Homo sapiens: one gene and its partner. The protein of the gene in region 2 interacts with the protein of the main gene of each other region in a biochemical or structural test. Each region holds a gene or a part of one and is shown on either strand. Other genes may lie near its edges.

The links. Proteins that work in one complex are often made in the same cells at the same time.
Region 1: the proteins of PDCD6 (region 2) and FNDC3A interact in far-western blotting, tested with the Homo sapiens proteins (one study listed by BioGRID).

The regions. Positions count from the first base shown.
Region 1 is NC_000013.11:49,132,912-49,139,911, forward strand, and holds part of FNDC3A (fibronectin type-III domain-containing protein 3A), read left to right. Parts: intron 1-3,420; coding exon 3,421-3,690; intron 3,691-5,835; coding exon 5,836-5,894; intron 5,895-7,000. UniProt on the Homo sapiens protein: Mediates spermatid-Sertoli adhesion during spermatogenesis.
Region 2 is NC_000005.10:309,536-315,598, reverse strand, and holds the end of PDCD6 (programmed cell death protein 6), read right to left. Parts: intron 4,307-6,063; coding exon 4,197-4,306; intron 1,183-4,196; coding exon 1,084-1,182; 3' UTR 625-1,083; downstream 1-624. UniProt on the Homo sapiens protein: Calcium sensor that plays a key role in processes such as endoplasmic reticulum (ER)-Golgi vesicular transport, endosomal biogenesis or membrane repair.

The DNA.
Region 1 (7,000 bases), on a different chromosome or scaffold from region 2:
TCCCTTATTTGACTATCAACTCCCTAAGAACTGAATCTATTTTAATCACTATTGTTTCCCTGCACTTAGCATTGCCTGTCACTTATGCTCAGTACATTTGCAGAAGAAATAACTTCAAATACAAAATTGAAATTACACAACACAGCCTGTAAATAGTGGATATATTGTACACATCATATGTATTTGTCAAACTTATTTCTATTGCCCAAGTAATGCAAATTGGTTCAGTAGCTCTGGGTAGTGCTTGAGATTCTGCATTTCTAACAAGCCCCTAGGAGATGTTCATGCTGTGCTCCAAGGAACATACTTTTGAGTACCAAAAGTTTATACTGCAGATTAGTCTCATCCTATTTTTGTTTACTGCTAATTATGACTTAGTTTTAAAAATATTAATTTTTTCTTATAATCTGAGAAAACTATAAGAAAAAGCTAGTATTACAATTATTACTATTTTGCATTGTTAAAACCCCTTGTTATTCTGTAGGGATATGCATTAGAATACATGGATGTGATCTACATTGATATGAAGGAAAGTGAAGGGCACAAATCCACAAATTAGCTACCCAGTGGTAAAAGGGAGGAGTCATGTTGTACTTGAGGTTATAAGCCAGAGATTCTACCACTAAATGCTAATTATTGACAGTACTGGTTTTCTAACCAATGGCTATACCTCCGTGATGTCCTTTCCATGCACAATCCATATGGATTCTCAAAGTGGAATCTGATCCAGCATTTCACTGTTAGCAGTACCATTAGTGAGCCTGAACCTTGCTAGGCACTATGCTCACACATGTATTATCTCACTTAATTTTCAATAAAATTCTGCAAAATTCAAATGAGGAAACCGAGGCTCAGAAATGTTAAGTAATTTCTGCAAGGCCACACTGCTAGTTAATTGCTCAGAATTTTAACCCTCTCAGATCTATTCAATGATTAAGTTCCTTCTCTTTCTACTATAATATATTCTTTTTTCTCTTCCATGGTAGCTTTATTATTTTGAATAATAGATAAAGCATTTTAAAGTATGTACTAATTGATCTAATTGATTGCAGTTGCTATTTTTCTTAACTTTTTGTCGAGATATAATTTAGGTAACAGTTCATCATTTTACACTTCAGTGGTTTTTAATATATTTACTTTATTGTGCAACATATGCAACTCAATGTTTTCTATATTCAGTATGTACTGTATTAAGTACCACTGTCTAATTCCAGAACATTTCTATCATCCCAAAAAAGAAACTGTGCATATTAACAGTCAGTCCCAACTCTCTGTTCCTTCACATCCCATGATCTACTTTCTGTCTGTATGGGTTTGCCTATTCTAGACTTCATATAAATATACATATAAGTATTTCATATAAAAATTTCATTAAAATGTTCATACAGTATGTAGACTTTTGTGTCTAGTTTTTTTTCACTTAATGTCATGTTTTCAAAGTTCATGTTCTCACATATAATAGTACTTCGTTCCTTTTTATGGCTGCAATAATATTGCATTCTGTTGATTACATTTTATCACTCATTAGCTGATGGACCTTTGGGTTGTTTTCACTTTTTGTCTATGAACAATACTGCTGTGACCATTTGTGTAAAAGTTTTTGTGTTGACATATTTTCATTTCTTCCGGGTATGTGCCTCAGAGTGGAATTGCTGGGTCATATGTTAATTCTATATTACTTTTCCACAGTGACTACACCATTTTATATTCCTACCAGCAATGTATGAGGGTTCCAATTTCTTTGCCAAAACTTGATATCGTCTGTCTTTTGATTGTAGGCATCCTGAATAAATTTCTCTCTCATTATGGTTTTGATTTGCTTTTCCCTAATGCTACTAATGTTGATCATCTTTTCATGTGCTTATTGGCCATTTGTATATTTTCTTTTCCTTTTTTTTTTTTTTTTTTTTTTTGAGATGGAGTTTCACTCTTTTTTTTTTTTTTTTTTTTTTTTTGAGACAGAGTCTCGCTCTGTCGCCCAGGCTGGAGTGCAGTGGCATGATCTCGGCTCACTGCAACCTCTGCCCTCTGCCTCCCAGGTTCAAATGATTCTCCTGCCTCAGCCTCGCGAATAGCTGGGATTACAGGTGCGCGCCACCACGCCCGGCTAATTTTTTGTATTTTTAGTAGAGATGGGATTTCACCATCTTGGCCAGGCCGGTCTTGAACTCCTGACCTTGTGATCCACCTGCCTCACCCTCCCAAAGTGCTGGGATTACAGGCGTGAGCCACTGCGCCCAGCCCCATTCATATATTTTCTTTGGAGAAATGTCTATTTGAATTCTTCACCCATTTTTTAAATGGGTGGGATATTTGTCTTTTTATTGTTGAAAGGTAAGAGTATATATATTCTGGATACAAGTTCCTTATCAGATATATGATTTCCTCCCTTGTTGTTTTTTCACTTTCCTTGTGGTATCCTTTAGTGCAGAAAAGTTTTTAATTCTGATGAAATCTAATTTTTTCTTTGATTGCTTGTGTTTTTGGTGTCTCGTCTAAGAAACTATTGCCAAATCCAAGGTCATAGAGACGTGTTTTCTTCTAAGAGTTCTATAGTTTAATCTCTTACATTTGGGTCATTGATTCATTTGAATTAATTTTTGTATATGGTGTGAGGTAGAGGTCCACGTTCATTCTAATGTTATTGTACATATCCTTATAATACTCATTTCAAAAATACTGTACTAATTTTCTTAAGGCACTGCTAAATTAAAACTTTTTACTGAGGCTTTTAAAAAATATTTTTCTCATCACAAATTTTAAATTTAAAAAACTCTGGGGACAATTGAATTAATATTTATTGAGCATAATGACTTAATTATGTTCCTATGTGACTTTTATTAGAATGAGTGGATTCTTCTAAATCACAACCTTGAGTTTATAGTATCTGAAGATACATTATATGTAGATTGTTATTGTTAAACAGTCTAAATCATTTCTTTTGGCTAACTTTTTTTCAGTGATGATTGCTTTTTTGAGTTATAAGGGAATTTAGGCAGGCAGTGGTTTTCTTTTTACCTATTTTATGTGTTTAAGGTTCAAAAAGATGTGAAAAGTAATAGTTACTAAAGAGTAAAAGAAAAAGAACTGTGGACTGCTCAGCTCCAGTCTCATTCCTCACCTACAATAATCATAAGTTACCACCAAGCTGTTTCTATGGAGATTAATAATTAGTTGAGAACAGAAGGAAATAAATCTCTCTGTAAATTTACTTGAGAGAGAGATATATATAATTAGAATAAATCACAAAGCTTGGTTCTGATAGTTTATGGAGACACAAAGGTTGCTTTGTTATGCAAAATTCTTTTAAATATTTTATAAAAGTTTTATATGATAGATTTATTTTCTGTTCTTTTTTCATGGCATAAACTTATTTGGAGAAAGTGATCTTCTTAACATTTTGTTTTTATTGCCTCCTAGATGCTCACTCTACACATGGAAGGTCCAACTTTAGAGATGAACGATCTAGTAAAACATATGAACGTTTGCAGAAAAAATTGAAGGATCGCCAAGGAACACAGAAAGATAAAATGAGCAGTCCACCATCATCACCCCAGAAATGCCCTTCTCCCATTAATGAACATAATGGACTTATAAAAGGACAAATTGCTGGTGGTATAAACACAGGATCAGCAAAAATCAAGTCTGGGAAGGGGAAAGGTGGTACACAAGTTGATACAGAAATTGAAGGTAACTGTTTGAAGTACTGAACTGTTCTCATTGATGCTATTCTCGTGATTTAACCTACTAAAAGTATATTCTAACCTTTCAGTCATTTTGTCATGGTCCAAATAGACTGTTACAGGCTGCTGCTTTCGACAGTTTGGAAAGCCTCAATTAGTAATTTCATCTATATCGTAAATTTTACTGACTGAAATTTCTATTTGATAGGAAAACTCAGAGAACATTAATCCAGATTCCTTTCTTCTGATTCTGGGCGTTTGATAAGGCTATGCTGCTGGTTTTTAATCAAAACTTTTTTTTTTTGAGACAGGGTCTTGCTTTGTCACCCAGGCTGGAGTGGCACGATCATAGATAACTGCAGCTGGAAACTACAGGCATACACCACCACACCCAGCTAATTTTTTAATTTTTAGTAGAGACAGGGTCTCGCTGTTTTGCCCATGCTGGTCTCGATCTCCTGGGCTCAAGCAGTCCTCCCATCTTGGCCTCTCAAAGTGCTGCAATTATAGGCCTGAGCCACTGTCCCCAACCTATCAAAACTTTTTATTTCTCCCACCTTCTTTTTGAGTAAAACCTTGATAGCAAATAGTTATATCATTTACTAATCTCTCTATATACTCTGTAATTAGGATAGAGTATTTTTCATTTCTTTCTTCAAAAGTTCTTTTCTCCTAAACTCTCCTTGTTACTCTTGGATCCTTCCCCTAACCTCTGACTTCTACTCTATGAACTTTGTTTTATTGGTTTTTGTTTGTTTGTTTGTTTTTGAGACCAAGTCTCGCTCTGTCACCCAGGCTGGAATGCAGTGGCGCAATGTCAGCTCACTGCAACCTCCGCCTCCTGTGTTGAAGCGATTCTCGTGCCTCAGCCTCCTGAGTAGCTGGGACTAAAGGCGCATGCCACCACGCCCAACTACTTTTTGTATTTTTAGTAGAGACAGGGTTTCACCATCTTGGCCAGGCTGGTCTCCAACTCCTAGGCTCAAGCAGTCCACCCACCTTGACCTTCCAGTGTGCTAAGATTACAGGCATGAGCCTACTATATGGACTTTGAGCACTATTATTTGTATATACTTGAATCAATCTCTATAAGGTAAAATATAGCTGGGTTAACAGCCTGTCTTTCATATGCCTACAGTTGTGGAGTTAGTACCCAGTACTTTTGATTGTAATGTTAAGCTTGTAACTACTGCTTACTTTGATTAATGTAGTTTCTATATGTATGTTCTTTTAGGTTTCCTTAATACTGACTATTATCTGTTTGACGTAGATATGCGTATGTAGAAATACATAGATATGCATGGTAGACCATGTCAGGTTCTAAAGGTTTCATCAGAAATGACTATGAACCATACCAACATGTCATTTCACAAGCACCAATAACCACAACTCTATCAGTCCTTGAATATGCTTATCTAAATTGATATTTACTATCAAATAGTGTAGGTAATTAATATATGACTAGGAACTAAAATGCTTCCAACTTTGAGGGAAATATCAAAATGTAAGCCATGTGAACTCTTCCTACCTTCCTTTTCCTTAAAATTTCCATGCCTCACTAACAAATTTCAAATAATGTCTTAACTGTTCATGACTTATATATTAACAACATTTACATAAATGTTCTCCCATTTATTTGAGACCTGATCATCGTTTTCAGCACTGATGTTTCAGAAGAAATTAAGTTAAAGTTTTTTGCCTATCAGTGGTGGCTATAAGTTACAGTCAAGCCAATTATATTTCTAATTTGGGAAACCATAACTAAGGCATGTCATGAAAAAATAGTTAACTTTATTAAGAGGTATGAGATTGACAAATGAGAACTTTCCAGAGAGAATATTCTTACAACCATGAATAAAAATATACTTGATATAAGAAAAATTTGGTTCAGATAGATATAGCTATGTCTAAATATATATAGATATATCTGTATATAGTGGTGTTATAATTAGTAGTCACAGTTAAGATAGAAATAAAAACTAAAGTAGATAAATGCTGAAGGGCCACAAACTGCTGAGTATGAACAAAGGAATAAAAACTAGAAAATAAAAGTCTCAAATACCAACCTAGTTTCAGAATACATATTTAGGGAGAAGAAGGGATTGTATCTAAGTTCTTTTTTTTAAATATTCAAATGTTTTATTTTTTTAAGAAAAAGATGAAGAAACTAAAGCATTTGAAGCACTTCTTTCCAACATTGTCAAACCAGTGGTAAGTATCTTATGTATTTTATTGATGTTTATATTTAATATATTAGCATAAGATGTTCATCCATCAAAATGTAGTTTTTTTCTTTTAACTTTTTATGAAAATAGGATCATACTGTATTCTGTGACAAGCTTTTTCACTCACTATGGTATGCTTTAGCTATCTTTCTATGTCATTACCTGATTCTTTGAAGAGCTACATAGTTTTGTCATTCATTCATCAAATATTTATTGATCCCTTACTATATGCCAATAAATAAAAAACAAATGCACAAACAGAATTCTGTGTGATAGTAAAGATTGCTATTATAGAAATAGGAATGATATGATGAGATTAATAGGAGAGGTTGTTAGGTTAAATAGAGCAATCAGGGAAGCTTTCTCTGACAAGTGAGAAAAAGTGCAAAAGTGGAAGGAATGGGAGAGGGAGAACAGGTGTAAGTAAGCATGGGGAGTTGGACAGAGGGAAAGAACCATTATCACTGGAGTATAGTGAAGGGGAGAAAGATGTGGTGGAAGAAGTAGGCCATAGGACTTTTTCAGCCAGAATAAGGCAATTTAAGATTGATAAGAATATTTTTTGGTTCATAAAACAAACTACTCTTTCCCAACTCTCAGAAACATCCATGGTAAAATGTTTTATACTAAGTTGCCCCAAAAATACTTTGTTTTTCTGAGAAAACAGATTAGAAAAGTTATTATTCTTAGTACCATCTCCATAAAGGCTTTTTAAGCTTATCTTGCCATGTTTTAGGATGTTTGAGTAAGCCAGTTCCTCATCTAATAGACTAATATGGTCCTACTTTTTCTGACAACTCCCAAATAATAGATTTGGTTGCTCTAGCTTTCTTTATTCTAATCTGTTTTCTCTTGAGAATAGAGCATATATGTGTAAATAAATGTAAATTTACACAATTATTTCATAGTAATGGTTAACACAAATTGATTAGCATCAGTCTCTGTTCAGAGTGCTTGGAATGCACATGTGCATTATTTAATACCTGTGACAACCATATATGTACTATTTTCCCTGCTTTACAAATGAGGAAACTGAAGCAACAGTGAGTTTCAATTAGTAGTAGTAGAGCTATGACTGAAATTTAGGCAGTA
Region 2 (6,063 bases):
AACCATGCTCCCTGCCCCTCACCCCTCAACACACCGAGCAGAGGTTTGAACAGATCCCAAGAGACCAAAACGAACAGAGAAAAGTCGTGCACAACTGGGTGGAAGGAGCAGGCTTTCTGAGACCAGAGGCTGCAGCCCCAAAACCAGACGCATCACTGTGGAAGGGAAGCGTCTGGAGAATGAGGCTGGGCCTCGGGAGTGTCAACCCAGGAGGGCCGGCGCTGCACAGTGAGGCAGGGAGGCGGACCGGGCAGCGCTGGCAGTGGACCGAGGTGAGCAGGATGCGCTGGGTGGACAAACGCTGCAGGCCACGTGCAGAGACTGCAGGGCACAGCATGGCTAAATCATTAATGATGGAAATGCACAACCTGCTATACCAAATTGGATTTCTTCATCCAAAAGGAGCAGTCTTATGAAATTTAACCTCCTGAACAGAGGGTGAGACAGTCCCTCTGGATTTTCACAAGCAGAGCTGTGCACGCTGGGCTGGACAATGTTCCAGAAGGTGCCCGGTACCCTGGGAGGTCCCAGGCAAGCCAGAACATCTGACACTGACTGTCTGGAGGACCAGGGCACGGGGCCTGGTTCTTGGACCTATTTGATTTGAAAAGCTGAAGGCAGACCACACGTCTAACATTCCCTTTATTGCTTACGTCACATATTCCAATGAATACAATAAACTCCTTTTTAAAAAAGTAAGGCACATGAAAAGCCTTTTGTGTAAGTTCCATGTTATTTTAAAATTCCTATTGGCTAATAAAAGCATTTGCACTATAGAACCAGAGACATCTAGAAAAGCACATGATAGATTTTTTTGCAAGCAGAATGCCTGAAACATTACATTTACCTCATGGCACAATGAGACAGTCACCAAATCCAATGTCTGCATTAGAACGATACAGCTACTATTACAGTTGCAAAACCATTAATCAGCTTATCCACATATGTACAGCTGGGTCCCCACGTGACAAAATCTAAAGGAAGAACAGCATCTAACTGCACCTGTGCTCCATTCCCTCACAGATAGGAACTGTGACATTTTGGCTCTTTCCATGTTGTGCTGCTCTTCACGAGAGGCCAGGGTCATACGATACTGAAGACCATGGACAGGTACTGTTCGTACGACACCTGAATCCAGCCGTCCTGATCCGTGTCGTAACGTCTGAATATATCCGTCAACCTCTGGGGAGAAAACAGGCATTTAAATCTCGATAGTAAATGGAAGGAGCAAGGTGCACTGGGACAAAGGCATGTAGGGACCCAATTTCAGAAGCACACACGTCTTCTGGGCTCCCTGATGGAGCCCAGCACAGGGAGGCGCAGGTGGGGCTGGAGCTGTTCACACGGACGGTGGGAGTGCGAAGAACGAAGAACACAGGGCTGCGGGGCTGGCTCCGGACATCCAGCCCTGGCTGAGCCCCTGGCTGAGCCCCTGACCCCAGGCTCTGGTCTCCTGAGTCTCCTGGGGGCCTGGGCCCTTCCTTCTCCCCCTGAAGACCGTCCCGTGGAAGCCCTCCACCCTCCAGTGGCTCGCCTCTGCTGTGGGGGCCACCTGGGGCATGTGCAGCGCAGGGGATGCCCAGCCAGATGGGCTTGTGACATCACGAGGGCTTCAGGTTCCTCCAGCCCAGCCCACCCCTCCCTCTCACAGCCGAGGGTCCAGGCCAGGTCAGCGGCAGAGACAGGGTGACCACCTACACTCCTGAAACAGGGATGGTTAAGTAAGTGACACTTCAACCGTAAAATACCCTGAAGATTCAGGCCAGCATGGTGACTCTCGCCTGTGATCCCAGCACTTTGGGGGTCCGAGGCGTGAGGATCGCTTGAGCCTGAGGGTCGAGGCTGCAGTGAGCCGTGTTCGCACCACCACACTCTGGCCTGGGTGATGGAGCAAGGGTCTGTCTCAAGAAAGAAGAAGAAAATGTGGCAGGGAAGACACAGCGTCCTCGCACATCAAGACCTGCAGGAACATGGACAGGGTGTGGTGACTCTCGCCTGGGATCCCAGCTACTCAGGAGGCCAAGGCAGAAGGATCGCTTGAGCCTCAGGGTCAAGGCTGCAGTGAGCTGTTTACACCACCACATTCCAGCTGGGGTGACAAGAGTGAGACTCCATCTCAAAGAAAAAAAAACAACCCTGCAGGAATGCCACAGCCACCACCGGGCTCCTTGACTTGGCAGAGGCTACGGCCTCACCCAACTCCAAAAGCACCGCAATGGATAATGCTGGCTTAAAGAGTAATGGGTAATTTTTCTTTCTATTTTGAATACTTTGTGTTTTTCTAGGGTTTCTAGAAGTGTTCATGTTATTTGTTAGAAAATAATTTTCAAAAAGCCTTTATCCTTTCAGAAAAAGCAGATAAATAAAAACGTTTTTGAGGGAATTTTAACTTGAGGTCTGCAGCTTTCTTTTCTTTCCCATTCCCCATCTGTCTAGCGTTTAGGGTCACTCTCCAAGGGTGGGGACAGCCTGGGAATTGGCTGTCAGGCCCTCCCCACGTGGTCTGGAGCAGGGCCTTGAGGAGGCATCTCCCAGGAGGAGCTACGCTGGCTGCAGATGTGCCTTGGAAGGCGCTGGAGAGGTCGCTGTGAGGCCGCCTGTGTTACTCCAGCTACCGAAAGCTCACACAAGATCAACGTTAACTTATAGAACATAACCTCAAATGAAGATCTGAGCCCTACGGCAATTCAGACACAGAACCTCAAATGAAGATCTGAGCCCTACGGCAATTCAGACACAGAACGAGATTTTACACGGCATCTTTTCCCTTTTTCTTTTCTTTCTTTTTTAAGACAGGGTCTGGCTCTGTCACCCAGGCTGGAGTGCAGTGGTGTGATCTCGGCTCACTGAAACCTCCACCTCCCGGGTTCAAGTGATTCTCCTGCCTCAGCCTCCTGAGTAGCTGGGACTACAGGCATGCGACACCAGGCCCAGCCTACACTTTTTTGAAAGTGTTCAGAGAACATTGTAAAAATGTCATCCAACCTGGCAGGAACCCCGAGAGGCAGGGGCAGGAAAGGGTCCCCAACCGTAGAGTTTTGAAGCTTCCATGTTCACAGACCTGGTTCTCCAACAAATCCCTGAAGAACAGGGACTGATGCATCCATGCCAAATCAGAGGAAACTCACTTTTACAGATCTAGCATCTTAATTATTATACAGAATAAACAATTTGGGAACGTTTTCCAAATTTCCACATTATTTCTAAAAACCCCATGCTGTTCCTATCTCTCACTGAATTCCAAGGCCAACAAGACAGGACCTTGAGGAACCTGGGTAGAGACCTGGATCACCACCTGCAAACAGCAGCAGAGGTCTGTGTGGAGCTCCCAGGCGGGTCCCCTGAGCCCTGCTCTCCATCTCCCGTGGGTCTCAAAGAGAGCCCAGCAGGAGAGACACCACCAAGGAGCTTGCCTTGCAGGTCAGGGTGCATTACCAGCTCCTGCAGACACTGGAGTGCACGGGAAGAGCTCGGAGACCCCACTGAGGGCGGCCTGAGCGACCACAGGCTCCACAGCTGACCTCACACACAGACGGCAGGACACAGTGATGACCACAACAGAAAACGTGCCCATTTTCTCAGAATAAAAGTTTTTGTAAAAATACACCATAGTTGGCCAGGCATGGTGGCTCATGTCTGTAATCCTAGCACTTTGGGAGGCTAAGGTGGGCGGATTACTTGAGGTCAGGAGTTTGAGATCAGCCTGGCCAACATGGCAAAATCCCGTCTCTACTAAAAATACAAAAATTAGCTGGGTGTCACCTGTAATCCCAGCTACTGGGGAGGCTGAGGCAGGAGAATTGCTTAAACCCGGGACGCAGAGGTGGGAGTGAGCCGGGATCGTGCCACTGCACTCCCGTCTGGGTGACAGAGCGAGACTCGGTCTCAAAACAAAACAAAACAAAACAAAAAACAAAAAAAACCACAACACCAGAACATACATGTAAATAACCCACCGGATACTGAAAAACCACGTCTTGCAGATGGGCTGCTCTGTGCCATTTCCAAGGGGAGGAAAACATGTTTGTCCACACTTCACTAACCGGCTACTTCTCCAAAGATGAGACTCACTTTTATAAGCTCCAAAAACTAATTCTACACATGCCCAGCTCCTTAGATTGAAGGTCAGGTGCATCACGCTGGCAAGCAAGCCCCTCCCACCACCACCACAAACCCACGTGAAGCCATTCCGTCACCTGCAGGACGATGCAGCCCTGGATGAAGTCGTCGAAGGCAATCTGCCCCCGTCCCTGCCTGTCAAACTTTCGAATGAGGATGTCGTGGAACTGGTCAGAGAGCCGGTAGCCTTCAAGAGGGAAAGTCAGAGTCAGAGAAGGCTGGGAGAGACGGGAGGTATGTGCCAACACTCACCCCTCCTGCCCAAGGCCCACAGCCTCTAACACACACAATGCAAGGCTGTGTGGGAACGGAAGTGCAAATTCCCTCAAAGGCACTCAGAACTGAGACACTTCCCGAATATATCATTCTGTAATGAGCTGACATCCCCAGTGCATGGAGTGACCCCTTGAGACCATGACCCCGGAAGGAGGAGTGAGTGGGACGCTGCCATTAGTCACTCCTGTGAATTAACTACTCACCTCCGGGAAGCACTCACCAAACACCACCCCACAGGGCGGCCACACTCAGTTTCCTGAACCCAGTGGAGTTACTTTCAAAGTCCTTATTGATTTTATTATGTTTATTAGCCTAGATAAGAAAATTCTGAATGATTCGCTGCCCTGGGTTGCCCATCACCAGATAATGCTTTGAAAACTAAAATTTCACAGAAGGCTTCCAGTTATACAAAGTGACAATGTCAGGAAATGGGAGTGGCTGGGGGATGTGCCCCCACCTGCCAGGAGGGACTGAAGGGCACGCAGTGGCAGGGTGACCTCGGAAAGGTCCAAGTCACTGCAGGGCCACCAAGGGCTGGGATTCCGTTTCCAGTTCACCAAGGCTGTCCTGAAAAAGGCCTCCCACAGGGAGAGGGCTCTGAAGACATGTGGATGCAGCAGGTGTGTTCGGGCACCCCGGAGGGCATGCCCCGCCTGCCGCCTTCCCTTCCCTCCCTCGAAATCCCACTGCCTTCGTGACTGTGGCATATCCTTACTGACTCAGGAGGCAAGATCCAGGTGCTGATATATTTCTACTGGTTTTCAGTCCTGCTGGAATCTCTGCAGGGACGTGTGCACCTACTCTCTGAATCTCACAGTTAATGACCTGCACAAACAGCCATTTTACGGATCAAGAGTCAAGCACACAAACATGAACACAGTGCCTTCCAGAGTGGTCAGGGCATTCTGTCATTTAAGTTCAGGGGTCCCTAAATGTGCAACAGCGGAGTTGCCTCGGACCCTCCTTCCTTGCAAGCTGAAAAGACAGGACCTCCCATTACATTCAGAAAGAGATGGCAGAGTTGTCAACAGCTGCCACTTTTTCTGGTCCCTACTACTCCCACCTCCTCACTCCCTGCACCAGGGCTGAGCCCAGCCTGCTGAGAACAGAGCCTGGGACAGGCCCACAGGGACATTGCCTGTCTGGGAGTGCATGGGGGACAGAGGCCATCACTGGTGTGCACGGGGACGGCGGCCATCACTGGGGTGCACGGGCACGGCGGCCATCACTGGTGTGCACGGGGACGGCGGCCATCACTGGGGTGCACGGGGACGGCGGCCATCACTGGGGTGCACGGGGACGGCGGCCATCACTGGGGTGCACGGGGACGGCGGCCATCACTGGGGTGCACGGGGACGGCGGCCATCACTGGGGTGCACGGGGACGGCGGCCATCACTGGGGTGCACGGGGACGGCGGCCATCACTGGGGTGCACGGGGACGGCGGCCATCACTGGGGTGCACGGGGACGGCGGCCATCACTGGGGTGCACGGGGACGGCGGCCCTCACTGGGGTGCACGGGGACGGCGGCCCTCACTGGTGTGCACGGGGACGGCGGCCCTCACTGGTGTGCACGGGGACGGCGGCCATCACTGGGGTGCACGGGGACGGCGGCCATCACTGGGGTGCACGGGGACAGAGGTCATTACTGGTCTCCTGCCAAGGCTG